Linked DNA regions of Homo sapiens: regions 1, 2, 3, 5, 6 and 7 are each reported to be linked to region 4. Evidence: microRNA targets listed by miRTarBase, many of them from high-throughput screens and not tested one by one. Region 4 holds a microRNA gene; each other region holds the end of a gene's coding sequence.

Region 1 (4,488 bases), not on the chromosome of region 4:
TCTGTATGTTCCAGTAGTGCCCTGCTGTATACCTGTCATGGTATCTATGACTCTATATGGACATTACCTGCCGGTCTTTTAGGTTATAGCATATGACTATTGGGAGGTGGACCATGCCATCTTCATCTTGTAATTCCAGTGCTGGCTCTAGTACCTTAGCACGTGGCTGTTGAGTACATGAATGAAGAATGAAAAAGCTGTGATATTTAACCACAATTGGAATTAACGCCATGTGTAAATGATTTAATAGTAATTTTGTATTGTAATTGCACGTACATATTTCTCATTCTTATTAACTCTGATAACGTTCTCAACTCCACATTTTAAACTTACACTTCGTTAACTGAAATGTTTTAGGTAAAGAACATAATCCTTTCTTTTTCTTTCCAGGTTTTGCTATGTTGAGCACTTGCTCCCGTCTACTTTCTTTTGTAGAATCCACTGGTAAGCCACATCTAATGAAGAGATTAACCATAAAATCTTAAGGAAAAGTTGTATGATTTAAAAGATCATAAAACTTTATTACTGGGCTATTTACATGAAATTTTAATTGTTTCTCATATAATATAAAACATCATAATCTTTACTAAAGTAGAATATTTTCATGTCACATATGGTGTATATTTATATGTTATTTTAAATGATGTTTTTTAGCCTCCTTAAGTTTTAAGTGGATCTTGCAAATGAACACCAGCGTTATTGAGTTTGGCCTACTCAAATTGCCTGAATGTCAGCTGTTTAAACAGCCAAACAACCAAGTCATCATTGATACTTTAGTAAAGGTCATCGAGGGCTTCTTTGCATTTTACAGTTTTTATTACCATATGTAGTAGGAGACTTAAAGAGTATCTGCCAGGTTTGTCCATACTAGTGTTACGGTTTTCTTCTTGTAGCTCAATAGTATTTTGTGTGGAGATACTTTGAAGCTCTGTAAATATCTGGTTACTCCTCAAAACCCACTAGATTTAGCATTTCATGGATGACTTGTGTTTGAACAAGTATTACTGTGATGGTTGCCAGATGATTGTTTTTCTTATTTTCTTCTTTGTTCTACATGGAGAAATAAAACCAATAAATAAAGGAGAAGGGAAAGCTCATGATTCTGGTGCTCCAGTTCCCCAAGATTAGGCCAGTGGTAGACATTTCAAGCTGACTTTATGTCTTTTTGAATTGTCCCCATTATTCTGTCAGCACTTTTTTACTTTCTGGCACAAGGTGTTCTAAACTAATGTATTTTCTCTGCGGCAGCACCAAGGAAGCACAGGCGAGCCCTTCCCATCATGCGCTCACTAGTCCCCAACAGAAGAACCACTGTCGCATCCACTGAGGTACCAAGAAACTAGCAAAGGGCCTTCTAGCTGTCTGGGGACAGTCCTCATGTGGTCCCTGGCTCAGCCTCAAGGGTTCTTGATTAGTCTCCCTGCAGTCTCTGTGCTGTGTCTCTAGGTCGGGGCTCTTCAGGAAGGGCCCTGGGAGACCCAGCAGCACAGGATGTCTTGTCTGCCAAATGTCCCTCCCTTCCTCCCACTCTGACACTCAGGAATAGGGAAGATGGCATGTCCAGGCAGTGCCAGGCCACCTCATTGTCTCCTTTGAGATGGGCCCAGAGGGCCTTGCGGGGTGAGTGTGAAGCTGGGTACCTGGAGCCTGAGGCTGACTCCCTCCCTGTGTCTTGGAGGAGAGGCCTTGCAGCCCAAGAAAACCCCCCAGGCCTGACCCCTGGGCACACATGCAGGGAGGGGAGGTTCTGTGAGCTGATGGTGGCATTGTAATGAGACTTTGAACACAGCTGCTCAAGGGCCTCGTCAGTGGACCATGGTCAGAGATGACCTAGCCATCACGACCTGGTCAGTTGGGACCTGATCAGCAGGGACCTGGTTAGTGGTGGCCGCCTCAGTGAAGGCCTCACCCAGTGGGTATCTTGTGACCTAGTCATTGGAAGCCTAGTCAGTGGGGACCTGGTCAGTGGTGCTCTTATTAGTGGGGCCTGATCGGTTGGAACATAAACAATAAAAAACTGGTCGGTGGGGTGTATTCAGTGTATTAGGGGTCTGGTCAGTGTGGGGCCTTAGTGGCTTGGAGCCTGGTCAGTGAGAGCCTGGTCAGAGGGGGCTCAGTCAGCTGGGGACTGATCCATGGAGAATTATTCAATGGGGGTGAGGTGAGCAGCAACCTGGTAAATTGTGGTCTTGTCAGTGCGAACCCAGTCAGTGGGGACCAGGTCAGTGGGAAATTGGTCAGTGGGGTCTGGTCCATGAGGCCTACTAATGGGGGCCTGGTTAGGGAGACATGGTCCGTGGGGACTTGGTCAGTGGGGCCTGGTCAATGGGGGAGTGCTCATTAGGGGCCTCGTTGGGGCCACCTGGTCAGTAGGAACCTGGCCAGTTAGCCGATGTGTGACCTCAGGCAGGGGGTTTGTCTGTGGAGCCTCTTTGCCTCCATCTGTAGGGAAGGTGAGTCAGGGCACCCTGGAGGGTGGCTGGAAAGAGAACGTGAGAAGATGTGTTGAATTCAGCACTGCTTGGCAGACCTCCAACTTTACACAGTACCTGGGTTCCACCTAGAAAGGGTGCCAGCCCTCTCTGCTCTGCTCGGCACCCCTCCTCTGTCTGCATCCCCAGGACCACCCTCAGTGGAGAGGGAAGAAATTGGGGAGCACCTGTGGGAGGCTCTAATCCTGGCCCTGGGCCCTGGTGGTGACAGTGATGAGGACCTGGGTGCACCTGTGAGTGGAGCAGCTAGGCCTGGCCAGAGAAGCAAGACAAACAAACACACCCATATGTACACACACACACGCATACACAAACACAATGCATGCACACATGTCAGTTCAGGGGATAGAGGACACCGACTCTGGGCCCTCTTGACCCAAGCAGGCTCCTGTTGTGGTGGGTTGTGTCACCCCACAATGTCACTCTTGCTGAGTCCCCATCGCCTCTGTGTTGTGGAGCAGTTAGAGACACGCAGCAGTCTCTGTGAGTGGCTCTGCATGAAGGATTGTTTTCTAGGTGAAAGGCACATCTCAACACAGCTGACTGATCGGACTCAGGTGAGTGGGACCTGCTCTCTTCTCTTCCTCCTGGCTTGGGGACAGTCGCTATCGGGTGGGTGGTTTTGGCCTCTGGGCAGCTACTGAGGGTAATCCCTGAGCACTCACCAGGTGCCTGTTCTGTGCTGACAGTCATCTCATTCATCCTTGCAGCAATTCCATTCTGCATCTCCTCTGGACACCCCCAGGACCACCAGGACAACCCCATCATGGCCCTGTCACCAGGCCCAGTCTCGCTCCGTGATAACCAAGATGCAGGTCCAGAGACAACCGCCCTACTTGGTTCCTGCATCTGACCCCCCTTGGTGGGTAGTGACCAGCCCAACATGGAAGAAGCCAGGGCAGCATGCAGCCAGCTGCCCTGCAGCCCCAGATGGCACCTGGGCCTTGGGAAGTCATTCTCAAAGGGGAAGCTGGAAACTTTGATGTCCCTGGAGGGAAGGGTGAACGTGGCATCCGAACAACCCTGGCAGCCAGCAGCATCTTGTCATCCAACCTGTGGGACAGAGGCCCCCTGCTGGGGAGCGAGATCCATACCTAAAGGGTCCTGGCCCAGTTGGGCCTCATCCTGGGCCCTGGGAGGGGAGGGGCACTATGGTCCCCCCAGCAGCAGTCAGCATTACCACCCAGGGGACTCAGCCTTCTGTGGCCCTGGCCAGAGTTAGAATTTGGCCCAAGACAGGACAAGCTCACTCAGAGCAGGGTGTCAGTACCCAGGACCTGTGCATGCCAGGCAAGGCCAAGCTGGCTCAAAGAGCAACCAGCCACCTCTGCAAGGGTGTGCCTGGAGCAAGTGGACCGGCCACCAACCTCACCCACTCAAGGAATCAGGGGTGGCCAGGTTCCCACAGCCTGAGGGGCTGCCACTTGACGGCTGATGGAGCAGAGGCCTGAGGAAAAGCAGATGGCACTGGGGCCCTACCTCCAGGGCAGAATAACTGATTTACCCTGACTGGCAGCGAGTGAGGTTGGTGGCTGGTCCACCTGCTCCTGGCACACCCTTGCAGAGGTGGCTGGTTGCTCTTTGAGCCAGCTTGGCCTTGCCTGGCATGCACAGGCCTCAATGCAACCACTGTGCTGCAGATGGAGCCACATAGAGGAAATGAGCAGCAGGCTCAGGAGCAGGCTGTGCGCTGCCTTTGGGGCTCCAGTCCATGCATGAGGGCTCCTACAGCACTGTGGGCTTCTTGGGTGCCAAGAGGCAGACCGCAGGCCATCTTGAGAAGGACTCCATGTTCAAGTGCAGAAAGGGCCCAATCTCGTGGATGAACCACATGGCCAGCTTCTGGGTGCAGGCACAGTGCCACGTCTTCCATCACTTCGTGATGTGCCACACCAGCACTGAAGAGACAGCCTGGAGACAGGGCAAGAGGAAGGCTGCGAAGGATGAGGTGGTGAATTCCAGCTTCTTCCTGACCCTGAGCCCACCCCCAAGGTGG
Region 2 (4,510 bases), not on the chromosome of region 4:
ACATAAGATAATTCATAGTGGAGAGAAACCCTACAAATGTGAAGAATGTGGCAAAGCCTTCAAGCGCTCCTCAAACCTTACTACACATAAGATAAGTCATACTGAAGAGAAACTCTACAAATGTCAAGAATGTGACAAAGCCTTCAAGTACTCCTCAGCCCTTAGCACACATAAGATAATTCACAGTGGAGAGAATCCCTACAAATGTGAAGAATGTGGCAAAGCCTTCAAGCGCTCCTCAGTCCTTAGTAAACATAAGATAATTCATACTGGAGCGAAACCCTACAAATGTGAAGAATGTGGCAAAGCCTTTAAGCGCTCCTCACAGCTTACTAGTCATAAGATAAGTCATACTGGAGAGAAACCCTACAAATGTGAAGAATGTGGCAAAGCTTTTAACTTGTCCTCAGACCTTAATACACATAAGAGGATTCATATTGGACAGAAAGCCTACATAGTGAAGAACATGGCAAATCTTTGAAATATTCCTCAACCCTTAATAAACATAAGATAATTCATACTGGAGAGAAACCGTATAAATGTGATGACTGTTGGAAAGCCTTTGACCACCCCTCTACTCTTACTAAATATGAGAATTTATATGAAACATAACTCCTACAAAAATAAAGAATGTGACAAATCATTTTAAGGAAGTTCTCAACCCTTACTACACATAATTCATACTGGACGGAAACTCTACAGGTGTGAAAAATGCAGCAAAGCCTATAACAAGTTCTCAATTCTTTTTTTTTTTTTTTAAGAAGGAGTTTCATGCTTCTCACCCAGCCTGGAGTGCAATGGCACGATCTCTGCTCACTGCAACCTCTTCCTCCTGGTTCAAGCCATTAACCTGCTTCAGCCTCCACCACCATGCCCAACTAATTTTTGTATTTTTGGTAGAGACAGGGTTTTGCCATATTTAACAGGCTGGTCTCCAACTGTGATTCACACACCTTGGCCTCCTAAAATGCTGGGATTACAGTCATGAGCATCCATGCCCAGCCACAAGTTCTCAGTTCTTAAGAGACATGGTGATAATTCATGCTGAAGAGGAACTTTACAAACTTGAAAGATGTGACAGTGCTTTTACCACCACCTCCAACTTTTCTGTACATAAAGATGATTATACTAGTGTGAAACCCTAGAAATAATAGAAAATTTGACAAATCCTTTATATGGTTGCAAGACTTGATTGTAGGTAAGATAATTCATACTGGCAAAACTCCTACAAGTGTGAAGAATGTGGGAAAACTTTTTAATCAGTGCATACACCTTATTTCACAGGAAAGCTAGTATCCTTGAGAAAAATTGCACAATTATAAAAAATATGGAAAACCCATTAATGCCTACTCACATCTTACCCAACAGAAGGTGGTTCACAGTTAATGAAAGCATTTAAAGTGCAATTATGCTCAAGAAATCTTTCAGAAAATAGAAGCCTTTAAAGTGAAGAAGAGTATTCTGAAGACAACCATTACACATATAAAGGGGGTTGTATTACCTTTACTTGCATCACAGATTTCATTGCACACATTTTGTACTAGAGGAAAACCCTGAAGCAGTTGCTCCAGCTTTGTTCAACAACAGGGAATTTATGTTAGAGAAGAATCCTGCAAATGTAGTGAATTTGGAAACAAATTTTTTTTCAAAAACTACAGCTTAGAAAACACCAGAGAGTTGATACTAAAATATATGTTTGCAGAAACAGTAAATATAAAAAATATTTAATTCAAAATGAATTCCATGTAAATATCAGAGAATTTACAGTAGAATAAGGCACTGATACTTCAGACATTACACTAAAACAGTGTTGAGTATAAAAAAGAATCCACAACAAAAATTGTTAGATAAATTATATATAGCTTTAAAAGGTTTTTTGAAGCATTGTAATTACATTGAAAGTATACTTGCTTTCTTGAGAAAAAATTTTTGAAAAGTGAATAAGGTAATAGAGCTTTCAAATTTATGCTGTTACTTTATTTCTATTCACATGTGAAAGCATGTGATCAATTGATGCTGCATCAGAGATATTACAGATTCTTTATTGGGCATTCCTTATAACCTTTTCTATTAAAGAGAAAGGATATTAAAATGTAAGATGCATGATGAAAATATAAGTGGACAGGCTGTTCGTATTTGACCTATATTAAGTAATGTATAAGGTAGTGTTCAGAGTAATACTTTTCTACATTATAGTGAGAGAAATTATGAATTACAGTTAAAGGTATATTAAATTACTGTATTATTTTACTAATTTTATGTAATAAAATACACTACATTAAAAAATTGTTAGATTGTGTGTGAAGTTAATTTTGTTGTATCCATTTATTTTTTTTTTTGAGATGGAGTCCACTTTCTCATCCAGGCTGGAGTGCAGCAGCGCAATCTCTGTGTGATCATTGCAACCTTCACCTCCCAAGTTCAAGCGATTCTCCTGCCTCAGTCTCCCAAGTAGCAAGGACTACAGGTGTGTGCCACCATGCCCGGCTAATTGTTTCACCATATCAGTCGGGCTAGTTTCGACCTCTTGAGCTCAAGTGATCCACCTGCCCCGGCTTCCCAAAGTGCTGAGATTGGCCTAGTTTTATTTTATTTTTTACCATATTAAGACTATTTTGCATTTAATGAAGCCATATTATGCCACTAACTTTAACCTATCCCACCTTACTCAAGGGTATAGTTACAAGATGGTAGCAGTATACTATTTGGTATATAGTAGAATAACATCATTAGTAATCACTTTGCCAGTGGCTTTAAATTAATTGAGTTGAAGAATATTTTTCCCATAGGTTAAATTTTTATTCTTACAGAAATTTATTCTTAGTATTTGTGGGTATATAGTATGTGTTTACGTTTATGCTTTATATGGCATACTGTGATTCAGGACTACAATATGTAGTAATTACATTAGGGTAAATAAGGTATCCATCACGTCTAGCATTTATCCTTTGTATTACAGTGTAATTATACACTTTTAGTTATTTGAAAATGTACAATTAAATTTTAATTGACTACAGGGTTATTTTTATGGTCGTAATAAAAATTATACAGAAATATAAAAAGAATATGGCCAGATGAAGTGGCTCATGCCTGTAATCCCAACCATTTGGGAGGCTGAGGCAGCTGGATTGCCTGACGTCAAGATTTCAAGACCAGCCTGGCCAACATGGGGAACCCCTGTCTCTAAAAATATAAAAATTAGCCAGGCATAGGAGCACCTGCGTGGAGGCTGAAGCAGGAGAATAGCTTGAACAAGGGAGGTGGAGTTTACAGTGATCCGAGATTGCACCACTGCATTCCAGCCTAGGCAACATTTCTGAGTCCTGAAAAATTATTAATAAATATTTGTTACATAGTTTTCTATAAACTTGTGGTTTCTCTGCCTGCAAACACAAGAGTTTTAGTTTTAATTTTCATAGAGTGAAATATCCACATATTACTCTGAAGGTAAACCTTAGGTGTAAGAAAAATATAAAGTGAGTAAGTGTATTTGTGAGTTTGCTTTGGTACATATTTTCAGAAGAAAAGCACAATTATTGAAACAAAACAACTTATTTTAATTTGGTGAATAACAGAAAACACCTTCAAAATGTTGAAAGCAAATCTACACTTTCTGCTTTGTATTGAATTTATTAATGTAAAATTTTATAGCTTATGTTTCAAATTCTTTCCAGAATCTGCCTATTGAAGCACAGGCAATTTTGTCTCCATAAATAACACTCTTGAGTACAACAATAAAAGCCCTCTTCAAACAAACAAATTATTTATAACACTTATTTTAATGAAAATGTAACCAAAAGTATATAATTGGGTATATTTTTGTTGTTCTATGTGTGTGCGAATGTATAAATTGGTACATAAGGACAAAATAATTTAAGCCAGAAAAAAAGATGTTAGCTAATATTTGTAATGAATAAAACTGGAAAGTAGTTAATTATTATTTGCACATAATGTCTTTGTTTACGTAGATAACAAAACAGCAGAAAGACTATTTTAAAATTTTATTCAAGTGGGTAGGTAACATTCTAAGATAATACGCTGGATTCCCAGTCTGTTGCACACCTGCTGTGTAATACTTTTTCCTTGAGTGTAAAAAAATGTGCAACTGGTGGGAAAATCACTCAAGAAATTAGGTTACTCATGTGTTGACTTTGTGTTTATCAAAATGGAGATTGTCCTGACTGTGCTAAACTTAATCAGAGGTGCTTTTAAGAGAAAGACACATCATAGAAAAACACCCCTGCTTGCCTGAAAGTAAGTGACTTCTAGGTGGGCCATGTTGCAAGCTGCTTATGGTGACCACATGGCAGAAAACATATTTGTACATTGTTATCATTCCTGCCCTTCTGCATGTTGCTTCCAGTAGGGAGAATCTAAGGATCCTATGACAGGGAAAAAAAGGAAATCTCATTCATGCAAGAAATAATCACCTCTCACCTGGGATAGCTTAAGAGAAGCAGGAGACCACAACAGAACCACATAAATGGGAGGAAAATGGTAACCTGGGTAA
Region 3 (4,000 bases), not on the chromosome of region 4:
GGAATGTGACTGGGATCTCTGGAAAGCCCTCCACCTCTAGAAGGCACTTCCCAGAGGGCAGTGAAAACAGAGCCTCCTTGCACAAGAGATTTGCCCTCCAGTGGCCCAAAAAGGAGAAAGAAAAGTCCTGAGAGCTTTGTGAAAGCTTCTTCCCCTTGGTGTCTGAGCCTTGTTTCTCAAACCTGGATGATCCCTTTCCTCTCCATCAAAACCATCAGCTGTTATCAGTCACTGTAGGCAAAAAACCCAGCCCAAATTGCTCCCAGGAGATAACAAGTTCTTAAGAAACTCGTGGCTGGGCGCGGTGGCTCACACCTGTAATCCTAGCACTTTGAGAGGCTGAGGCACGCAGATCACCTGAGGTTGGGAGTTTGAGACCAGCCTGGCCAACATGGAGAAGCCCCATCCCTACTAAAAATACAAAATTAGCTGGGCATGGTGGTGCATGCCTGTAATCCCAGCTACTCAGGAGGCTGAGGCAGGAGAATCGTTTGAACCTGGGAGGCAGAGGTTGCAATGAGCTGATACCACGTCATTGCACTCCAGCCCTGACAACAAGAGCGAAACTCCATCTCAAAAAAAGAAAAGAAAAGAGAAGAAAAGAAAAGAAACTCGTTTCCTGTAATCAACAAGACCTTTTAACTTTATTTTTAATTCTGTGTAGATCCACAGAGCATGCCCACCACATGGCCCCTCTCCAGGCTGAGGATGGAGGAGAGGGGAGAAATGGCTCCCGATATTCTGGTCACTTAGCTCTGAATGTCACCAGCAAAGTGAATATTATACCCGTATATGCCCTCTGGGTCTTGCCCTAACCAGTCAATGTGCAAAATGTGATCGCAGCTCCCTCTTCAAAAAACACTTCCATGGCTTCCCAACTGCTCTTTAAACAAAGCCTAAAATGTTTGACAAGACTGACAAGGTTGACCAGGCCCTGTGGGTTCTGGCTGGACACCAAACCTTCAGGTACCCGCCTTGAGCCAGGGCTGCTTCCTCCACTGATAATCTAAGGGAGAAGAGCATAGCCAGGAGCTGGACTCCAATCAGTGCCCCAGATCATAGTTTCCCATGGTTCATCCCTGATGAGATACTGAGTGAAAGAATGATAAAAGGCAAATATCTGGACAACAAAACAGAAACTCTGTCGAGAATGTGTCCTGCTGGTCAGAGACGTAGCAAGGACCTGGTTGGAAGTCAGAGTTTAGGAGCCACACAGTGGGCTTCCCATCAGATTGGCCCCTGAAATTCCCAAATAAAGAAATAGAGAGCATGAGTGGTTGTCTCAAAGCAAGAAAATCGGTGGGTGTAATTTCTTGGTTACTGGAAGGCACCTCTGTTTGAGGGTTGCAGCAGCAGAAAAATAAAAAGGTTTACACAACCTGCTGAATGCCTCATAACACTGCCTCCCACATGGGGCTCTGCCAGGCCCCTCCCTCCTGCCCTCTCCTCTTTGTCTAGGAGACAGCCACTGTTCCTTTAGCTCCTAGCACAGTCTCCACAGGTCCACAGACACCCTGTGAACAGTGCTTTCTGGGATTATGCAAGGCAATGACCCTGACTTCACTTCCGAAGCAAGCCTCATGACCCTTTAATGAGTCCAAATCCCTCTTAGGGCTACAGGACTTCTCAGTGGTGTCAGAGAATAATTAATAGATGATTAATACAGATAATGAATCCGTATCTTTCTCCCCCACTAGACTACTAGACTAGAGGCTCTGCAAGGGCAGAACCATGTATGCTCTCTTCTTGGTGACATTTTTAAGTTATATTTCCACCTGATGGACCCAGACCGACACAGAGTAGATGCTCAATAAATAAATATTGCACTAATGAACAAATTCCTGTTTTCTGATCCCTGACTGCTGCAGATCCTACTCCTACCTCGAGCTCTTGAAGCCATTAGCCCTGAAGCACTCTCTTTGGAAGCATAAATGACCTCTACATTAGCACTTTTCCCTCTGTCTTGGAACAGGAATTGTTGGTGCCAGAAAATAACCATCCCAACCCTCCAGGCCACCTCCCTGCATATCTGACTCTAGGCATCTCCAAGACAAACTGGCTGCTCTGCCCTACCCAGCTGTATGTGGGGATGCCCTTTTCCTAATAACATTTTCTTTTTTGAGCTACTTTTGATGTTCATTGTAGCCCAAATTTATGAACATAAAATTATGGGGTGGGTGAAAATGGCAGGGGGCTGGGGAGAGACAGTCAGAGAAGCACTCAAGGCAAGGGTGGCATGAGGGGCCCAAAATGTCATCTGCTGGTCAGCATGCCACTGGTGATGCTCAGCCTGGTCCTTGTCACCAAACTTCTTCTCCAAAACCAATGGCCCTCAGCTAGGGACCAGTGTCTCAGGGATCTGCTGAACATAAAGCTAGTTTCTTTAAATGAAATCATTTTCACTTATCACCTATCATCAAACATGACAGTGTATGTGAAAAGGTTTTGTCCCCAAGATATAACATAAATGACAACAATAATATACCAAGCTTACTTCACTCATATCCTTGGAAACCTAGATACTTCTGATCAAAATTAGTAAAAGTTGCTCCATATACAAACGCTATGTCAAAATTTTTTTAAGAATTGCTTAATCCTGTGTCTTCCTTTAGGATGTACCACCCTTACCTTGAGTGGCATTGCCTTTGAAGCCCAAAGCAAATATTTTCTTTTAAAACCTAATGGTTTTAAACTGTCTCTTCTAAAGTCTGTGAGTCAGTTCCAGTTGTTTATTACACAGCCAAATTCAGAGAGATTAAGGACACCAAAGTTTTTTTAATGAAGAAGATGAGTTTCTTTTAGTCATAAAGATTGTTTCTATCATATCATTCCCCATGTGTTGACATGGCAACTCTGCTCTGTCTTGCTCCACAGACCTACGGGTACTTAGGGAAGTCCTGTGTTCTGTCAGCCACTGGTCCCAGCTAGTTCATGCTTGGCGCAGGCCCCAGCCTGGGGTGGACCAAGAGCCCACCCATGTTCATCACACGTCAAGCTTCAACCTTGCAGAAGAGAACAGCAGCAGCCAAGGGTCACTGTGACTCAGTGATCGGGAAGGATGTATTCACAGCGCTATCCTATTATGGTCTATTTTGTGTAATTTAGTCAGGTATCCAATACTATTCTAGCAGGAGACATGATTTATTTTATTTCATTGGTTTGATGTTTTTGTTTTGTTTTGTTTTATAGTCTTTAAGGTACCCAGAGTCCTCAGAGAGGCCAGATGGCAGCTGAGTTGTTTGGGATTAGTGAGTCTGCTTTGGGGCCAAGGACAGCCACCAGGAAATCTCCAGCTGGGCCTGCTTTCTCTTCCCTGCTTCCTTCCCACCCGACTCTCACCTCTGTGGAAACTCCCAAAGTCTCAGAAGTCGTGATTTTTCCATTGGCTGCTGGGGTTAAAATTGAGCCACCAATGCCTTCCTACAGAGAAGGGGGAGGGTGGTGGATGAAAAAGTGAAATTCCTGCTCCTGAACCTTATACAGGAGATTTCTTACCCGAGGGAATTTGAAACTGTTCCGGAGGAGAATTTCCCCAGCCCAGCCTAATTTTTACCAATCTGAGAAATTGCACCTCCCACTTCCCCTTTCCCCCCTTGAATGATCTCTGTCAGGCTGCCTGGGCGCTGCTGTAACTTCTGAAGGTTACAACATAGAACACCACGGTTGTCAGGTAACAATGACGGAAACACTTGCTCCCTGAGCTGAGCATTGTGTTATTATATCAGAATAGCCTCTAGCGAGGGAGAGAGTATATTTCTTCATAAGGGGGAGGAGAGAAGCAGGCACAGGCCTCCTCTTCCAGCTGTGTCTCTTCTAGCTGGTCAACATCAGGATTGGGCCTGAAATGTGAGCAGAAAACACAGGTACATTATGGTCCAAAGCACCATTCACAGAACCAAGGCTGCCATCGTGGGCAACAGGCTAAGAAGAGATTCACAGTCTCCCAACACCTTATTCATGGACCAAACAGCCACAGATCATGACGGAGATGGCTAGAAGG
Region 4 (4,510 bases):
AAAATACACAAGGGGTGCTTGATTTTTTAAAAAATATATTCTTAGGAAGTATTCCAACAAGAAAAGATGGTAGACCTCCAATGTGGGTCACAGCTGGCAGTCTGACCCCAAGAAGTTTGAACCCAGCCTCTATTATCTGTGCAAGACAGAACTGTACTTCTGCTTTGGAGTTAATCCCAGAAGAATTTATTTCTTTTCCAGCCCTTCACATAGCTTGTGCTTTATGGTGGCAGACTCAATGGACCAAACCTTCAGCTGTGGGAATCATGGCTTCAGCCATTGAACACACACAGCCCAGTCAGCTGGCAGAGTGGACAATAAACCTACAAACACTCAGCAAGTCACTCAGGTTCTTGATTCAAGAGTAAATGGCTTCATAAACACAATCATAACAACAGCGGCATGAGTTGGTGCATGTCAATGTGTACATTTCGGTAGAGAGGGCCCAGAGACACGTATTTTGGCAGATGCTAGGTCTTGGCAAGACTGTAAGCAAAATCACAAAGCAGCCCAAGTCTGTGGTCAGTCCCAACTTCCTATCAGTACACCTTTTCCATCCAGGCACCCCATAAAGGTGGATTTGGTCTCTTCCACATTCCATTAAGTGTAGCCTCAATTCCCAACAAAAACCCACACCACACCTCTTTTAAGGAATTTTATAGGAAAACTTTACCTAAACATGTATCCCCAAATCCTCTGAACTAGCAAAATCCTATTCAGGTTTATCTCCATGTCAGAGAGATGGGAAATATATCAAGTTCTGTCAGCAGGTCAGCCAGGCCGAGCATGCCAAGTGATCTGGGGTTATAGACAGCAGATTAATCTCAAAGCTGGAACTTCTTTAAGACCAGGAAGTAGCCCCTTTTCTGATTAAAAGACAAGTCAATAATTCTGGGTCCTTGGTCCACCACTGTGATATGTCCCTTGCAAAACAGGCACTCTCAGGCAGTCTTCCCTGCAGAGCAACCATGATGGATACTGACTACTGACTTGAAAGTGCTTTGACACCCCCAGATGGAAGGAACTAATCAATTATGCTTCTCACTTAGAGGCACCCTGCTCATTCATGCTGAAGATAGAAGTCCAGATAAAAGTAGAATTACTGGGAGTCCAAGATCCAGAAAGAAAATGAGAGAGCTCAGCTGGTCACTGTGAATGATGTGCATGTGCCCCAAGCCTTTGAAACACATGACATTTTCCAGCAGCCAAGCACTCATCAAATTGCAGAATGTCGAAGCTACAAGGAAACTTAGCAATTATTTAATGATCTAAATTACTTTTATTATAGTGAAGAGGAAGCTGAGGCCTAGAGAGGTAAAATAACCTGTCATATAGCTGAGCAGCGAAAGGAACAGACTCATTACCCTAGTGATCTCCTGTCACACAACCCATCTCATGAAGCTCTCTCTCAGGTCGAGTTTAATAGATGAGAGAACAAGGGGTAGTCTGCCTATGCAAAGCAGGTACACACAATGAGATCAGAGCAAAGGGGATTTCCTCCCCTGAAGCTAAACAGCCCCCATAAGTGATGTTACGTGTTAGGATAATTTCCTTGGTGTGCTGGAAGATGTTTCACAAGCATGGGTGGTGGGGACCCTTATTTGCCATATTTGCCAATTTCTATAGTGTAAATACTCTCATCATGGCAGATTTCAAGCTACCAACTTGATGCCACTGAACAGCAGTTGGGGAGAGATATGTGCAATCAGCTCTTGTGAGCTGATAGAAGCTGGATCCTCCACACCACTGGAATTTCTGAGAAGTCTACATCACGGGTTTAGGAATGAAATAACTTTCTGGCCCACAAGAATAAAACACCCAGGTTTATGAGGAAAATCCTAGCAGCACACACTCTAGGTTTCACTCACTGAAACTCTGATTCTCTCTGGATCTCCTGGACATCACAGTTCCCATATCCATGGGATCCAGAGAGAATCAAAGTTTGGAGAAGTTACTTGGTCCATCATGTCTGTATCTCTGGGTAGTATCCTACCTAATTGATCCAAGGCAGGAGCACTGAGAGGTGGAATCCACATTCCCTATCTTAATGCTTTTGGCAACCAAGCATTCCTTTCCCAGCAGTAACAGGATCCAGTTTCCAAGGTGATATGTGAGCTCAGAGCCCCATCTTTACCAACGTCAAAGGCAGTGCTTGGATTCAGCTTCAGGTAGGCCTCCTCTGTTCATGTAAGCAGGAAGGAAAACATGTAAAACTGAATTCCTCCTCAATTTCTTTCTTTCTTTCTTTCTTTCTTTTTTTTTTTTTTTTTTTTTTTTTTTTTTTTTTTTTTTTTTTTTTTTTGGCTGAGAAGAGTTCCAAGGCTGGGGCAGCAACTCATCAGGAAAAGTTCTTAGCCTGTGCTTTCTTTTTGCCAAACATTGATTTGCTAATAGAGAAAATAACTGGTGTATAAACAAAAGTGGTTGATGACATCCAAGGGTCTGGAGCAATTCCTCCACATCGTTCTGACAGCTAACAAATGGAACTAGCTCTTAGGGAGCATGTTTAAGGAACAGCTGGAATATGTAACGGACATTTTTCTGTGAATTTGACAGGTCAAGCTCCATCACGGTTGAGCTACGCTCACCGGACGTGGATCAGAATGAACTCTGCCATTCCTCAGAAGGTTGCCAAGAGGGCTTTGAAGAGAAGGGAATCCAAGGAACTCAGTTTCAGACATGGAGAAGAATAAAGACCAGACAAATCATGAGCAAACCTGATTTAAAGAGAAAGATCTATAAATACCAGTTGCTCAGCTTTCTCCCTGGTTTCCTGACCCTATGATGAGCTCCACCAAAATTAAGTAAGTATAGCCCTTTCCAGAGGGTCACTTGGAGGGAAGATCCTGCCATATGTCGCCTATTGGTCTTTAGCCTCACCACCACCCCAACATCTGATAAAGTCAACAGACGTGAGTTCCTAAAGGATACAGAATATACAAGATACTTTCCCTTATACAAGGATTCACTCTAAGCATCGTTAAAATGGCAAACTCACCTGGGACCCCTAAGATAACCTGATTTACCAAAATCTGGTTTATCCTTAGCATATGAGGAGCACATCCATTCTCTAAAGCAAGGAGATTTTCAAGATCAATGAGCAGAGAAACTTCTCAAAAGAATTTTATAGAATTTTTTAAGATAACAAGCAAACTAACAAATGATTGAGTAAACCTGGTACTATTCCTTTTCTTCTTCCAAACTCAAGGGAGTTATTCCAAACAATAACATACCTAGAAAAGAACCTGTGAAGATTGCAAGATTATCTAAAGAAGCCACCGGGGCAAGAGCGGTGGACATGCTTCTCCACACGGCCCTGCACCCAGACCACTCATTGTGAACTCCACCCAAATGCATAAACCTTTGGGAAGCAAAGGATGAATTGATTAGCTGCAATCTGTAGGCCCAATCAATCCATCTCCACACTGTAGGGACCTGCACAGAATCTCTCCTTAAAGTCTAGTCTTTCATGAGGAGAAATTCACCTCATAAAAGACATGATCAGAAGACATGACAGCCTGGAGGAGCAAACTACTGCTAGGTCAGTGGAAGTTCTCCTCCTGTTTGTGAAAGTGAGGAGAAAAGCACAGAGCATTTGTCCCTCAGCTTGTCTCCCTTGCAGTCTTCTCACTTATTATAATTCAAAAATTACCTCCATTTCAAGGAATCCTTCTCCTTCAGAGCTTTCAGCTCAAGGTGGCCTGGTTTGATCTCTCCTGACACCACTTCCTCCCTCCACCCCAAAGTAGATTAGGATCACCTTGGATAACCACCAGAACTTGATGATTAAAACATTCAGAGCAAAAAGATCTTCAGAGGTCATGCCAACTGATAAGCCAAGTTAGTAGCAAGGCATAAAATAAGGCATTACTGTCTTTGTTCTGTGCTGATCCATGCATTGTCCTACCTACCATGCCAGCACTTTGGTCTGTGAAATATGCAGAAAAGGCAAGAGAAACACAACTGCTGACAAGAGGATGAGGAAAGGAAGAGCACTTCCAGCAGGCATTCGCTGCCTTGCCTTAATACTTAGCACTTCCACAAGCCTTTTCATCTTCAAAGCACTTGAGGAACACTAGCTAATTAATCCTCCCAACATCCCTGCAAGGTGAGGAAGGATTATCTCCATTTTACAGATGGAGAAATGGAATATTTTGAACACAGGCATAAAACCCAGTGACAGATAGAATTGCCAGAAACTGGGCTGGGATCCTTCCTGGTGTCTTTGATGCCCACTCAAGCCTGCCAAGGTATCTCATCCCCAACCTGAGGACTGCCAAAAGCTCCTAACCAGGATCTAGCCGAGCAGACAGAGGGCCAGAGGCAAGACAGACAAGGCTCTCATGCTAACCCTTCCAAGTCTCTAATTAATTCATTATCTCACTGGACTGTCTGGTTAGGGGAGGCCTCTTTTGAAGCTTAGATGGAGGAGGAGGAGATGCCTGCTCAAGTCTTCTTCTAAGCAATGATTCGATATTCCTCTCTTATATCTTCACCCTGGTTGATATTT
Region 5 (4,510 bases), not on the chromosome of region 4:
CAGTCTAGTGGGAGAGGCAGACAATTAAGTAAGCAGTTATAATACCATGCATCTTTTCCCTGAGGTCTGGGTATAATAGCTTTAGAGTGGAAAAATAAACAGAAAAAGTGGCTACTTGTCCCCTTCCACCCATTCTCCTGGCCACTTTTTTTCTTTTGTCTTTGGAAAGATAATCTGTTATTTTTCATACTTCATGTTATCTTTCATGTTATCGTTATTTTAGATGGCAAGGCTGGGACTTGGAATGTGGAGTTAGCCCCAAAGAGGGAGATTTCTCAGGAAGTGAAATCTCTTATACAAGTTCTTGGAAAACAGAATGGTAATATTACTCAGATTCCTGAGTATGGAGATACCTGTGACCGTGAGGGCAGATTGGAAAAGCAAAGGGTGAGCTCTTCAGTGGAGAGACCCTATATCTGTAGTGAATGTGGAAAAAGCTTCACCCAGAATTCCATCCTTATCGAGCACCAGAGAACACACACAGGTGAGAAGCCTTATGAATGTGATGAGTGTGGGCGGGCCTTCAGCCAGAGGTCAGGCCTATTCCAGCACCAGAGACTCCACACTGGGGAGAAGCGCTACCAGTGCAGTGTTTGTGGCAAAGCCTTCAGCCAGAATGCCGGGCTTTTCCATCACCTCAGAATTCACACTGGGGAGAAGCCTTACCAGTGCAATCAGTGCAATAAGAGTTTTAGTCGACGTTCAGTCCTCATTAAGCATCAGAGAATTCACACTGGAGAGAGACCTTATGAATGTGAAGAATGTGGCAAGAACTTCATTTACCATTGCAACCTAATCCAGCATCGGAAAGTCCACCCAGTGGCTGAATCAAGCTAGCTCCTTGGAACAGGTAGGGGATAATATTTCTTACTTTGTCCCTGCTGTGTCCTCTAGCATAGAAAAGTTCAAGGGAAAGCCAGTAAAAATTCCCTTACTTTTATGCAGAGAGAAGCATAATATCTTAAATACATCTGCCGAGTTCTCTGATCAGTGACATCCACAGCTTTGCAATACTGAATGTTGCCTCTTGTGTTGATTTCATCATGTATGCTGTAGACCTAGTTTCACACACATCTGTGCAAGAAGTTTTCTATTTCAGGAAAACTTCTTCATCCTAGTTTTTAAAAACTTTTTTTAAAAGTTTAAAATAGTTATATGTAGGCTGAGTACAAAATAATCTCAAATGCAGTTCACCGAGTATTTAAAAATTAACTTAAAAATAATTGTAATAAAATTCATAATATAGGTTTCCTGACTTCTTTCCATTCACATAAAATATGATAATTTGTTTTGTAACCTACAAAAAGGGGCAGATGAATCCTCCTATATAAATGTAGATTTATAGTAAGTTAGATTTCTATAGATTTTTTAGTTAGCCTTTAGGAACCAAGGAACTGAAGCAGCCATATGTTATTAGCAGCTCAGTGGCTCCTCATAACAAATATTGCTCATGATTTTAAATTTACGCAGAGGCTAAGAAACTTAGCTAAAAATCTGATATCTCACCTCAGATTTCTTATTGGAAAATACAGGCCTCTTTGTATTTTTCCCGTAACATATAATGAGCATTTTTTTGTTTTTGCCTTTTTCTCCTTTATTCAATATTTTGTATGGAAAATTTGAAACATATTCAAGATTGAAGAGAAGAGTATGATCACTCTTTCATGTTGATTGTTTTTATAACCTCCACATTTTCTCAGCATTTACTATTGATTACCACCAAGATCATAAATAAAAAAATTTATTTCCCTTAACATTGACTTAGTAACTCTTTACAAAGCTTTACACAAGGTCCAGGAGACAAAGAAATGGAAAACCTATGGTGAAAACAATCTGGTTTGGAATACACCCAAATACCCAATACATAGCAAGTAACTTTAGAATAACAGAATCACTCTAAGGGACCTTAGAGATCACTTCTGCTTGCTCTTATTTGACAGATAAGAGAAAAGGAAGTTCTGGGAAGTAACTAAGATCATACAGCCAGTTAAAAGCAGAGCTGGAACTAGAACCCTGTCTCCTACTTCCTAGTGTAACATTCTATTAAGCCACTGGAGGCATTATATCACCAAATAAAAATTACAAGTATATGGAATTTATAGGATTTATAAGTCACTGAAGTTGCTCAACAAACCCACCCATTTATATGTTTCAATAAAGCACAACTCCTCTATTTAATTTACAGTGGAGTCCAGGAAAGACTCTTCTCATTTATTCCTCATTGAAAGCATTTTATTTTTGTAATTATTATTTTTAGCTTTTAAAATTTAATTTACTCAGTAGGACTTTTTTAAAAAGATAATTCATTCTTCACCTGGTTCAAAAATCAAAATAATACAAAAAGGTCTACTTTCCCTTTATAAGTAGCCATTGTACTAGTTTCTTATGTATCTTTCAGTGTTTCTTTATGTAAATATAGGCAAATATGAATGTATAATCTTATTTCTTCCATTACTCAGGAAGATGGCATATTATTTATACTCTTCTAATACCTTGCTGTTTTCATGAAAGAATATAATCTTTAGAGATGTCCACATCATAACAGAACTTCTTCATTCTTTTTATAAGTGAATAGAATTTTATTTGTTCATACTCCATAGTTTAACAAACTCCTATAGATGAAAAATCTCACTATTTTAAAATGTTACATATTCTGTTTCATTCTTTTCCCCAGTTTAGTCCAAGTTAAATTCCTTCTGTTCAAAAGCTAACAGCTTTCATATGAGCTAGGAAACAAGGCGTGGGCAACCAGAATTGCACATAATTCTTCTACAGAGAAATGGAGAAGTGATGGGTGGTATTTTTCAGTTTAGTGTATTTAGTTCTATCACATATTCTTACACCTTACATATCAAACTGTTTGTGTCACTACTTAAGGCTTATTGCGGGTATTATAAAAAACTTATATTTCCTGAAAAGTATTTTTTATTGTGTCTTGAGGTTAAATTATTTCCAAGATAAATAGCTACAGATTTTTGAGTGAAGTTAAGAAAAATATAGTAGACTCGATTTTGAAGTAAAATCAACTTCTTAAGTAAATATGTATTCCATAAAGTGATGTAATACATATTCTATAGTATTCTGAGTTTATAAATATCTTAAATGCTTCTCCATTTAAGATAATGAGAAAAGTGAAGTCCAAAGTGCTTAAGCACTTGTAGTAATCTTTCTGTCTTTTATTGCCTTAAAAATTTTGTAAAGGAAACCAATTATGAACAAAGATAATTGTGAATTATATATGGTTTCATAGACACTTACACTTGGAGCCCTGAGACCCACTGTAGGCATCTGCAAACAACAGCAACAACAAAGTGGGATGGAAAGAAAAAAGAACAAAATATAAGAACATAAAAAAGAATCAGACAGAAGGTAAAATTAGATGCTAAAACTCTAGATTGGGCAAAAAATGTTGACCAAAGGAAAAATAAAAAGATAGATGCAGAGACAGAGTGTTGCCAAGAAACATGCTTCATCTTCATAATAATTATTAGAAATCTCTCTTATTTATCAACTGGTCCAAGTTTTTAGATACTATTGTCTTAAGCAGTGAAAATCTCACTGCCTTTTACTCCTCACACTTTTTATTACTTTCCATAAAATGGAGGACAGGGAGAAAAGCAGTCTATAAACCACTGTGATTTTTAGATCTCCTTGAACCTATCCCCATTTTTCTATGCCAACTGCCAATGGGCAGTGTTGAAAGCACTATTTCTTGATGATAGCTGCACTAGAATCACCTGGGTTGTTGGTTTGAAGTGCAGTTTTCTCAGCCCCACCCCAGACCTACTGAATCAGTTTCTGAGGCAGAGCCTGAAAATCTGTATCTAATTAGCATATTAGTGGTCCACACACATAAGGTAACTATATAATTTATTGTCCAATCTGGGACACTTGAAAATGAAAAGGAGTGCTGTTAATAATTACACCAAGACAACAGGTATAAACCAGGAGGTACGGTCCCCATACTAATAATTTTTGCAATAGGCAGTATTTTTTCAACCAAGCATATAGAAAAGACAGAGAATCAGAAAGATTACAATGTTCTGTCATGAAAGCTAAGGCAGAATATATATGAAAAAGGCTGTTGGAGACTTAGGTGTAGCCACCTAGCCTGGTAACCCCCAGTAATAGATCTATTGGATTAGGAAAGAAAGGATGGGATAATATGTCTGCACAAACAAAACAGAGGGCCCCCCCATCCCGCCCCTAATTAAGACAAACCCATTGTTAACATAACTAGTTACCTAAGATTAACCTATTGAGTGAATGGTTTACCAGACAAGATGGACAACATCCTGGAAGCACAGGAGTGTTTCAGTGGTATAGGGACCGATGGAGTACAGTGTTCAACCTTATACTGTAGAAGAAAGTGAGAAGATAGAGTACTGGATCAGAGCTTGCAGTGTTAAGGCAAACAGTGAGCCATTTTAAGCAGGTAGTCGGATGAAGGGGAAGGGGGCAGATATTGTACCAAGTAGTTTCATAATTTATCACATTCACTCCACATCAT
Region 6 (4,421 bases), not on the chromosome of region 4:
GTTGTGCAACCTGGGACATGTCACTGCCTTTTCCCGGGTCTCAGTTTCCCTATCTGTACAATAAACCTTGATGATATGATCTCTGTTGTCCTTCCCTATTCAAAGAGTTATGATTTGGGGCCCCTTTTCCTGAAGTCTGCGCTCCTCTGACCTTCCTTTTCCCTCTGTACCCAGACCCCCGATGTCAGTTACTGACTTCGATCTCTGATTTGTGCTTCTAGGTTTTCTTCGTGTCTGACCTCTTCAAGACTAAGACGACGCTCTCCCTGCCTGCCCCTGCTATCCGGAAGGAAATCCTTTCACCTGTGGACATTATTGACAGGAACAATCACCACAACATGATGTAGGTGCCACCCACCTCCTGAGCTGTTTTTGTAAAATGACTGCTGACAGCAAGTTCTTGCTGCTCTCCAATCTCATCAGACAGTAGAATGTAGGGAAAAACTTTTGCCCGACTGATTTTTAAAAAGGAAAAAAAAAATGTTTTACTATGTGGCCTTCCAAAATAGGTAGTGTTTGCCTATGTGGAAACAACAGCAAACTAACACCAAGTGCCAGAGTCCTGGATGTGCAATTGGTTTAAGTGTTCATGTTCTAGTGAACACAGCTTGTTCAGGAACAAACACTAAAACGATTTGAGTAGAGGCTGCTGGTCACCTTTTGTGACCTGAGGAATCCCAGGCCTGTGAGAAAAGCAAAAATTCACATTGCAGCACATGATGCCAGAAATAGCACTGAATCAAGAAAATAGCCATTGCGGAGCTGCCCTCTTGAGTCTTTCTGTCCATCCCATTCTATTCTGTACTGTGACTTTAGTTCAGGAAGTTTTGTTTTGTGTTTTAAATAAAAGGAAAGAGCAAGTTTGCTCAGTCAAGTGATCAGATCCCGAATCTAGATTCCCAGTTCTAAGGCCTTATCACCTCCCCTGCCCATAGGCCAACAACCATAGTTCCTCACATTAGTGATTAGCAGACTCTTTGTGGACGAGTGAATTTCACAAACAGCACAATTTCAGAAGAAATCGAGGGCACAGGCCCTCACTTTTCTTCTTTTGACGCATCATCCTGTGATGTTGAAATGTCAATTGCAGGATGCTGATGTTGTGCACGTCAATCACCGGGCACTTGCATACTCTTAGAAACAGTTCGACTTCGGTTACTGCCTTCTCCCTTGAAATCCTTGCTGCGTGCCCACCAGGATTTCCTGTGAGGGCCCAGGAATGAGCAAGGCATGGTCTGCCACCAGCTGACGGAAAGCAGCCTTCTGTACAACAGATGGGAGGGTGAAGGGGGCAGAATGAAAATCGAACCAACCTTTTAGCTGTTGCAAATCAGAAGGAGCCAGAGAAGCAGGCAGTCTCATGCATGAGAGGTTACCCTTCAGGATGACAGAGCTGAGGGTCTTTGTAGGAGTTGCTCTTGCTGTGTAAAGCACTATTGTCTTGGGGTTGAGCCCTAGGGCAGTTCTTGGTAGGTTCTGCTGGGCAGAACATATGGGTTAAATCTCGGTAGAGAGTTTCCCTCATCCTCTATCCGTAAGTGTCCTTCCATGCAAGGTCCCACTCTAGGTGATAGACAGGGACCCCTTCTACTGAACCTTTGAGGAAAGGAGGAAGGAAGAAATGCGTTTAGATCTTGGATGCAGACCTTTCAAAGGGTTAAATGTAACCATATGGATCAACCACATGCACATCCTTACTACAGAATCCGTCCTTTCATTTCAACTTATAGCAAGCTATGATTTTTATATATAAATATTATATAAATAATGTATAAAACATTAAAAGTTAACTATGTAAGATATTATTTCTGAAACAATTTAGCTATATCCACTATGATTATAAACTGTGTCTCGACCTGTGTTATTTACATTAGCTGCTTAAAAAAGCATTGAGTTAATTTTTTTAAATATCAACTAAAATATCATAGTTCTGTGGTAGACATTGTTTTATAATGAAATAACTGCAACTAGAGAAAACTGTATAAAAACATTAAATTGTCAGTATTTTTGTAAGGTTCCATTTTGTAAAGAGAATAATATTCAAAGACTTTTGTAGCATACAAAGTGAAAACTTGTATCTGCGAAACTATACTTGTATTAAATGTGCTTTTTAAATAAAAGCTCGTAACACAACTAATTAAGGACTTGCAAGCCTGGAGTGTTTGAGAGATGTTTGTCTCAGGTGTGTGGGTAGGAGAAGGAAGCATCGCGGGCTGGCCTCTTTGAGTGGGCTTGCCTCATCTCAGCGCACCAACTCCTGATTTTTTTCAGTGGGAAATGTGGTGGTCATAGGGTAGATACCGATGTCTGCCCTGCTCTTTCATCTCTGAAAGCCTGTTTGCAGAATGAGGCCCTGGCTCTACCCTCATCTCAGGCTCTTCTAAAGAGCTTTTGTATTCTAAAGAGGATTTTTCCATCAGAGAGGTAGGAGCTGTAGGAACCCCGAGGGCAGATAAGCAGCCCTCACTCTAGATAAGGTATGCTGGGGGAGCTTACTGAGGGAATCCTGTACACAGCCCACATCAAAGGAAGGCTGAGAATGGCCTGTGGCTCCTGCTTCCCTTCCTTGTGTTTCTCCAACCTGGAAGAAAAGGGGAAGCTAGAAATTCACATTTATTGAGCACCTGTGTGCCAGGGATTTCTGCCTATTTGTTCTGTCTGATCTTCACAGCAGTTATTTTGAGAAAGAAAGAATACTAAAGAATGCAAAGATGAAATGATTAGTCTAAGATCCTAGAGCATTAAATTGTAGGATAGGTCTTATATTAATTTGCTATAGCGGCTATAACAAATTACCACAAACGTAAAACAGCATAGATGTATTGTCTTACAATCTTGGAGGCTCTAGGCAAGAAGCTGTTTCCTTGCCTTTTCTGTTTTTAGAGGCCACCCACTTTCCCTGGCTTGTGGCCCTCTTCATGTTCACATGGAGGAAGCAACATTGGGTAGAGTCCTCACCCTGCCATCTCTTTGGTTCTCCTCTTCTGCCACCCCTTTCACATGTAAAGGCCCTCCTTGCTGATTACACAGACCTGCTCATAATCTAGGATAATCACCTATATTAAAGTCAGTTCACTGGCAAACTTAATTCAATCTGCTGCCTTAATTCCTCTTTGCCATGGAACATATATTCACAGATGCCAGGGATCTAAGACATGGCCATATTTCGGGAACCATTATTCAGAGTACCAGAGTTCACCCTCTGGCCCTCAAAAGATTCACATCCATCCCAAATGCAAAACAGATCACCCTATCCCCACATCCCCTAAAGACCTAGGATATGGCAGTATCAAGTCAAAATCCTAAATCTTAACAACTTAAACACCCCAAATCTCATCATCTAAACTAACCCATTCAAATTAGGTAAAAAGGAGGCTCCATGTTTAATCCACCCTGGAATACATTGCTCTCTATGAACCTGTGAAAATTAAGAAACAAGTTATCTGCTCCCTAAATTCACTGGTGAAACAGGCATAGAATAACAGTTATAGACATTCCTATTTAAAAAGGGAGAGAAGCCAGGCGTGATGTTTCACTCCTGTAATCCCAGCACTTTGGGAGGCCGAGGCAGGCGGACCACGAGTTCAGGAGATTGAGATCATCCTGGCTAACATGGTGAAACCCCATCTCTACTAAAAATACAAAAAAATTAGCCGGGCGTGGTGGTGGGCGCCTATAGTCCCAGCTACTTGGGAGGCTGAGGCAGGAGAATGGCGTGAACCCGGGAGGGGGAGCTTGCAGTTAGCCGAGATCCCGCCACTGCACTCCAGCCTGGGCGACAGAGTGACACTGTCTCAAAAAAAAAAAAAAAAGGAGAGAGAGAGAGAAATAGACGGAAAAAAGAAGTCATCAGTCCCCAGCAACTTCAAAATCCAGCAGGGACCAGGCATGATGGCTCACTCATGCCTGTAATCCCAGCACTTTGGGAGGCCGAGGCAGGCAGATCACTTGAGGTCAGGAGTTCAAGACCAGCCTGGCCAACGTGGTGAAATCTCATCTACTAAAAATACAAAAGATTAGCTGGGTGTGGTGGCACACTCCTGTAATCCCAGCTACTCTGGAGGCTGAGGCAGGAGAATCACTTGAACCCAGGAGGCAGAGGTTGCACTGAGCCGAGATTGCACCACTGCACTCCAGCCTGGGCAGTGGAGTGAGACTCTGTCTAAAAAAAAAAAAGGAAAGAAAAATCCAGCCAGGGATGCTCCATTTGGCTTCAAGGCCTGGAAATAGACCCAAGTGGCTCATGTCTGGTTTCTTGCCACCAAGGTCAGCCTGCTCTTTGCTGCTGGACAATGCAGTCCCCTCCAGCCCCTGGAATAGCTCAGCAATTTCACAGCATTTTTATATAAGTGGTGATGTCCGTTTGAGCCCCAAAATGTAGCTAGTAAGATCCTTAAGGCCAGAGGCCAAATTTTCACTTC
Region 7 (4,510 bases), not on the chromosome of region 4:
CCCGCCACCACGCCCGGCTAATTTGGCTAATTTTGTATTTTTGGTAGACACGGGGTTTCACCGTGTTGGCCAGGCTGGTCTTAAAACTACTGAACTCAAGCGATCCTCTGGCGTCAGCCTCCTGAAGTGCTGGGAATGCAGGTGTGAGCCACCGCGCCTGGCCTGTTTTTTAAGTCTCAATTTCAGTATTTTAATGCCATCACCTATTTTAATCCCCAGGTCCATCATGACATCTGGTCATCCCTAGACAAGTTCCGAGTGCCCCCAGTCTTCCCCTCCTTCCTCACTCCTCGACCTCGGGAGCAGCCTCCCAACGGCTTTCCTGGGTCCGTCTTTCCCCTTTGATCAGAAACCCGCACAGAAGTCAGGCACCAGGTCTTCTGCCTGAGGCCTCTGGCAGCTCCCACTATGCTGTGAATGAACCCCAACTCCTGGCCTCCGCCTTCCCCTGCCCACCTCCAGCCATGGCAGCCTCCACCCCCATTCCCAGCCCACCAAGCCCTTTCCTGCCTCAGGGACATTGTACGTGCGTGCGATGCCTCCTCCACAGAGCGGACCTCCCTGACCACTGCCCTAATGGGCTTCTCCATCACTGTGGCCTCCACGGCACTTGTCACCACCCATTCGTTTGTTTACTGGTTGTTGTCGGTCACATACGAGTGTGAATTCCACCAAGGCAGGAATCACATTCTGGCTCAATCCCCACCGAATGCCCAGTGCCTGACACACCTGTTCAACCAGTTGCTCTCGTTCTTTTTTTTAAAAAACTTTTTGAGACGGAGTTTCGCTCTTGTTGCCCAGGCTGGAGTGCAATGGTGCAATCTTGGCTCACCGCAACCTCCGCCTCCTGGGTTCAAGCGATTCTCCTGCCTCAGCTTCCCGAGTAGCTGGGATTACAGGCATGGGCCACCATACTGGGCTAATTTTGTATTTTTAGTAGAGATGGAGTTTTTCCATGTTGGTCAGGCTGGTCTCGAACTCCCAACCTCAGGTGATCCACTCGCCTTGGCCTCCCAAAGTGCTAGGATTACAGGTGTGAGCCACCGCACCCGGTCTCTTTAAAATTTTTTGAGACGGAGTTTTGCTCTTTCGCCCAGGTTGGAGTGAGGTGGCGCAGTCTCGGCTCATAGCAACCTCCACCCCCTAGGTTCAAGCGATTCAGCCTCAGCCTCCCTAGTAGCTGGGATTATAGGCAACCACCACCACACCCTGTTAATTTTTTGTATTTTTAGTAGAGACAGGGTTTCACCATGTTGGCCAGGCTGGTCTTGAACGCCTGACCTCAGGTGATCCACCCGCTTCGGCCTAAGTGCTAGGATTACAGGCGTGAGCCACTGTGCCCAGCCTCAGTTGCCTTTTTCGACCTCTCTGTCTCTCCTGGGTGTGAGCCATTGTCTGCTATTGGTGCATTTTGTAATCTTTTGCGACATCCTTGTCCTTGCCTGTTACTGTGTATAGAACAGGGTTTATTTCTGCCTCTCTGGAAGGGTGGGCTAGAGTCTGGATATGTTGGAGGGAATATTATGTGTAGTGACTTCAGTGTTGTCTCTCCCTTTAAGGAATGGGAGGTCCTCTGCCTTCCATGTAGTCACTGCTGTTTCCATTCTACCATGTCGGCATCCAGCCTCTACCCCTTTGTTGCAAGAAAGAATAAATCTGATAAGAGGTACAGGAGAATCCCGAGACCTGGGATGCGCAGGGCAGATATGCCCACCTACACCGCTGTCTGGGGACCTAAAAACAACTCAGACACATGTTTTTACAACTTTTTTAATATATATTTTTATAAACAGGTCACGTGATAAAATAGCACAAGAAACACTTACCAAATATAAGGTTATATCTTCCGCATATACAGGAGAATGAGGTCGTTATGTACAATAAGAAAATGATTTTAGGGGTTGGTTGGTTTTGTTTTCCTCTCTCCCCTTAATTTTTCCTCCTACAGTCGTTGGAAATATCACAGCTTCAGTTGCATTAATACTTTGGGCAAATGGACAGCTGCCCCTCCCCACTAGGGGTTGTGGGGAGGAGGGGCTGGAGAAACTGGCTCCTGACCACTCAGCCCTGGAGCTTCCTGGGGCTGGCACTCCAGGGACAGGAAAATCTTTGGGCTGTTGATCTGTTTCTGATTCAACAGCATCTCTCTCTCTCTTTCTCTCTCTCTCTCACTCTCTTTCTCTCTCTCACTCTCTGGCTCTCTGGAAACTGGTTACTCTCTTCCAACCAGATAGGGAGTGTCCCAAGATTGGGTGTGGGCGCGGTATCTCCTGGGGCTCAAGGTTGGGATGGGAAGGGGTCCCAGCCCCCTCCTCAGCAACAGCTGAGATTTGCCAGCATCCCCCAGGACTTCCAAATGTCTCGGGCCGACAGAGCACGGTCAGAGCCCATTTGGGCAGACAGAAGTTTGGGAAGCTGGGGAGGGGTGAAGTGGGGGTGGGGGGGCAGGCTAGAAAGGAGCCCTCCCTCCTCGGGGTGTCTAGGGTGTGCTGGCCACTGGAAGATTGGAGTCGCTGACCCAGTGCTGACCCTGACCCTTGGCTGGGTCCACTCTGCAGACTCCACCTGAGGAGACCCACCCAGGGTGAAGCTCGGTGCCCAGGCCTGAACTGAGCCCGGCCGGGTGCAAGGGCTGAGGTGTGAGGTCGGCCCAGGCCTCTTCCCAGGCCTGAGGGTGGCTACAGCTCGAGGCTTGCAAGGTGCCTGCGCCACCCCTGGGTTGAGGCCGACCGGAGTCAGCTGGGATCACGTTAATGACTCCAAGCGATCGCCAGCCCTTCCGCCCTCTCCCTGCCCAATTCTCTCAGCCTGGCCAGGGACCAAGGCCGGGTTTTGGGGCGGACAGGGGACTGCCCCACACAGCGGCAAGGAGGAGGAGAGGCCGCGTGGGTCAGGCTGGATGGGTGAGGAGGTGCGGGTGGGGCCTGGGCTCTCGGCGGCGGGCCATGGCTTTGGCGGTGGCCTGTTTCCCCTGACACCCCTCGGAGGGCTCCAGGTATGGTGCGGTGGAAGATGCAGGAAGCCCGTGGGGCTCTTCTGGGCCCGTGTCCTGGGGGACCCAGCCCCCTCAATCCCACTGGGCCCTGCCCGGGATGGGGGGGACAGTGGGAAGACAGAGCGGGTGTGGCGGGGAAGGCGGTAAGGGCACAGTCTGGAGAGCTCAAAGCCCCCCCAAGGACCGAGCCCCGCCCCCCAAGCGGGAGGGCGAGCGAGTGATGGCGGCGGCTGTGGCTGTGGCGTGGCGGAGGGCGGCGTGCAGTGCGGGCACGAGGGGCATGCACAAAGTCCCCGAGTGTGCGTGCGTGCGTGGGGCGGGCCCACCCGCCGCCCCCCTGCCCGGGGCGGGGCTGGGAGGGCGGAGGGACCGAAGGTCGGGGAGGGGCTTTCCCTCGGCTCGCCCCGCCTCCCGCGCTGGGCCGGGGGCGCGGGGGCTCCCCCGAGCGCAAGGCGGGAAGAGGGGGCTCGGCGGCGCCCCGCGCCCCCGCCCAGGTCATGGCCGGGTTCCCGCGACCGGGGCGGGGGCCTCGCGCTACTCAATGACGAGGCAGCGGGGCAGGTGCTGCGAGAAATACTTGAAGAGCTCGGGGGTGGCCCCGGGGCAGTTGGTCAGCTCCAGCTCCTCCAGCTCCTGCAGCTGCACCAGGCCCGACAGCCCGGTGGTGGTGAGCAGCGGGCAGCCTGCGGCGGGGTCAGAGGGCGGCTCAGTGCGCGCGGCCCAGGGCTCGGGCGGGGACGGCCGGGCCGCGCCTCCCTCCTCCTCCGCCTCGGACCCGGGACTGTGTGTCCGCGCCGGGTGTGAGTTTGCACAAGGACCGGGCAGGTTGGGCGGGTGGACTAAGTGGGGGTGGGTGGTCACTGCCAGCGTCAGAGCAGAAACGGGGGTCTCACCTGCCAGAGACAGGAGGCGCAAACTCCCCAGGGCCAGGAGGTGCTTCAGCCCGAAGTCTTGCACCTGTCGGGAGTGGAGGAGCGACTTAACGATTTCCGCTCGCACCGAGGCGGAGGGCACCCTGGGGTCCATGGAGGGCTAGGCGGGTTCAAGCCCGGGGTTCCTCCGTCCCCCCCGGAGCCGGGAGGCGGCTGGGAAGTGCTCGTGGGGGCCGCCGGGACCCCTGCGTTCCGCTTAGGTCGGCTGCTGGATAGGGAGGGGCCCCAGACTCTCCCAGGATCTGAGTGGGGCCGGGAGCTCTCCCCGCGCCCCCACCTCCCCGCCGATCCCCCAATCCCGGGGCGTGAGAGCCGGTACCTGGCAGCACCATCGCAGGTAGAGGCTGCGGAGGGACGACATGGTGGACAGATAGCTGAGGCCAGTGTCCGTGATGCGTACACACCTGTGGTTGCACCAGAGGGGACCCCCACCTTCAAATCACCTGGCCCCGGCCATCCCTCGTCTTCCTGGGAGTGCCCCTGGCGTGAATCCCTTCCTGCCCCACCCGGAGCAGCCGCTGGCCCCTCCTCGCTCCCACCCACCGGGAAGGACGGGGGTCCAGCCAACCCGTGCTGCGGTTCT

What was found. The annotated mature microRNA hsa-miR-4768-5p reads AUUCUCUCUGGAUCCCAUGGAU and lies in region 4 at 1,915-1,936, opposite strand. An mRNA with a match to its seed (bases 2 to 7 or 8) in the 3' UTR can be bound and repressed. Matches are read on the target gene's strand: a 7mer-m8 pairs with bases 2 to 8, a 7mer-A1 pairs with bases 2 to 7 and ends in A, and an 8mer does both.
Region 1: miRTarBase lists ANKRD18A as a target of hsa-miR-4768-5p. The part of its 3' UTR that is shown has no 7-base or 8-base seed match.
Region 2: the mRNA of ZNF90 is a reported target of hsa-miR-4768-5p. Seed matches in the 3' UTR shown: 8mer at 524-531, 7mer-A1 at 2,075-2,081 and 8mer at 2,198-2,205.
Region 3: the mRNA of TMEM174 is a reported target of hsa-miR-4768-5p. Seed matches in the 3' UTR shown: 7mer-A1 at 3,304-3,310.
Region 5: the mRNA of ZSCAN23 is a reported target of hsa-miR-4768-5p. Seed matches in the 3' UTR shown: 7mer-m8 at 945-951 and 7mer-A1 at 1,944-1,950.
Region 6: miRTarBase lists PLPP3 as a target of hsa-miR-4768-5p. Seed matches in the 3' UTR shown: 7mer-A1 at 1,970-1,976.
Region 7: the mRNA of FBXL16 is a reported target of hsa-miR-4768-5p. Seed matches in the 3' UTR shown: 7mer-m8 at 2,799-2,805, 8mer at 2,177-2,184 and 8mer at 2,155-2,162.

What each region holds. Positions count from the first base shown.
Region 1 is chr9:38,567,962-38,572,449 of GRCh38, reverse strand. ANKRD18A (ankyrin repeat domain 18A) reads left to right here. Exons shown (of 16, transcript NM_147195.4): 16 at 391-1,086. The coding sequence ends at 405. It also overlaps the pseudogene SNX18P3. Among named protein-coding and RNA genes, the nearest start is that of FAM95C, 25 kb to the right of the region's middle. RefSeq lists an enhancer at 2,919-3,588.
Region 2 is chr19:20,118,880-20,123,389 of GRCh38, forward strand. It overlaps ZNF90 (zinc finger protein 90), which reads left to right. Exons shown (of 4, transcript NM_007138.2): 4 at 1-2,286. The coding sequence ends at 481. Among named protein-coding and RNA genes, the nearest start is that of ZNF90, 43 kb to the left of the region's middle.
Region 3 is chr5:73,173,899-73,177,898 of GRCh38, reverse strand. It overlaps TMEM174 (transmembrane protein 174), which reads right to left. Exons shown (of 2, transcript NM_153217.3): 2 at 2,756-3,839. The coding sequence ends at 3,734. Among named protein-coding and RNA genes, the nearest start is that of TMEM174, 2.7 kb to the right of the region's middle.
Region 4 is chrX:17,423,315-17,427,824 of GRCh38, reverse strand. It overlaps MIR4768 (microRNA 4768), which reads right to left and starts at 1,944; the gene lies at 1,871-1,944. All of the region lies in intron 1 of NHS (NHS actin remodeling regulator), which reads right to left.
Region 5 is chr6:28,430,792-28,435,301 of GRCh38, reverse strand. ZSCAN23 (zinc finger and SCAN domain containing 23) reads left to right here. Exons shown (of 4, transcript NM_001012455.2): 4 at 224-2,647. The coding sequence ends at 837. Among named protein-coding and RNA genes, the nearest start is that of ZSCAN23, 10 kb to the left of the region's middle.
Region 6 is chr1:56,492,477-56,496,897 of GRCh38, reverse strand. It overlaps PLPP3 (phospholipid phosphatase 3), which reads left to right. Exons shown (of 6, transcript NM_003713.5): 6 at 222-2,137. The coding sequence ends at 347. Among named protein-coding and RNA genes, the nearest start is that of LINC01767, 80 kb to the right of the region's middle. RefSeq lists an enhancer at 2,163-2,821.
Region 7 is chr16:690,746-695,255 of GRCh38, forward strand. It overlaps FBXL16 (F-box and leucine rich repeat protein 16), which reads right to left. Exons shown (of 6, transcript NM_153350.4): 4 at 4,247-4,331; 5 at 3,889-3,952; 6 at 1,755-3,678. The coding sequence ends at 3,530. Among named protein-coding and RNA genes, the nearest start is that of WDR24, 2.6 kb to the left of the region's middle. RefSeq lists an enhancer at 1-81.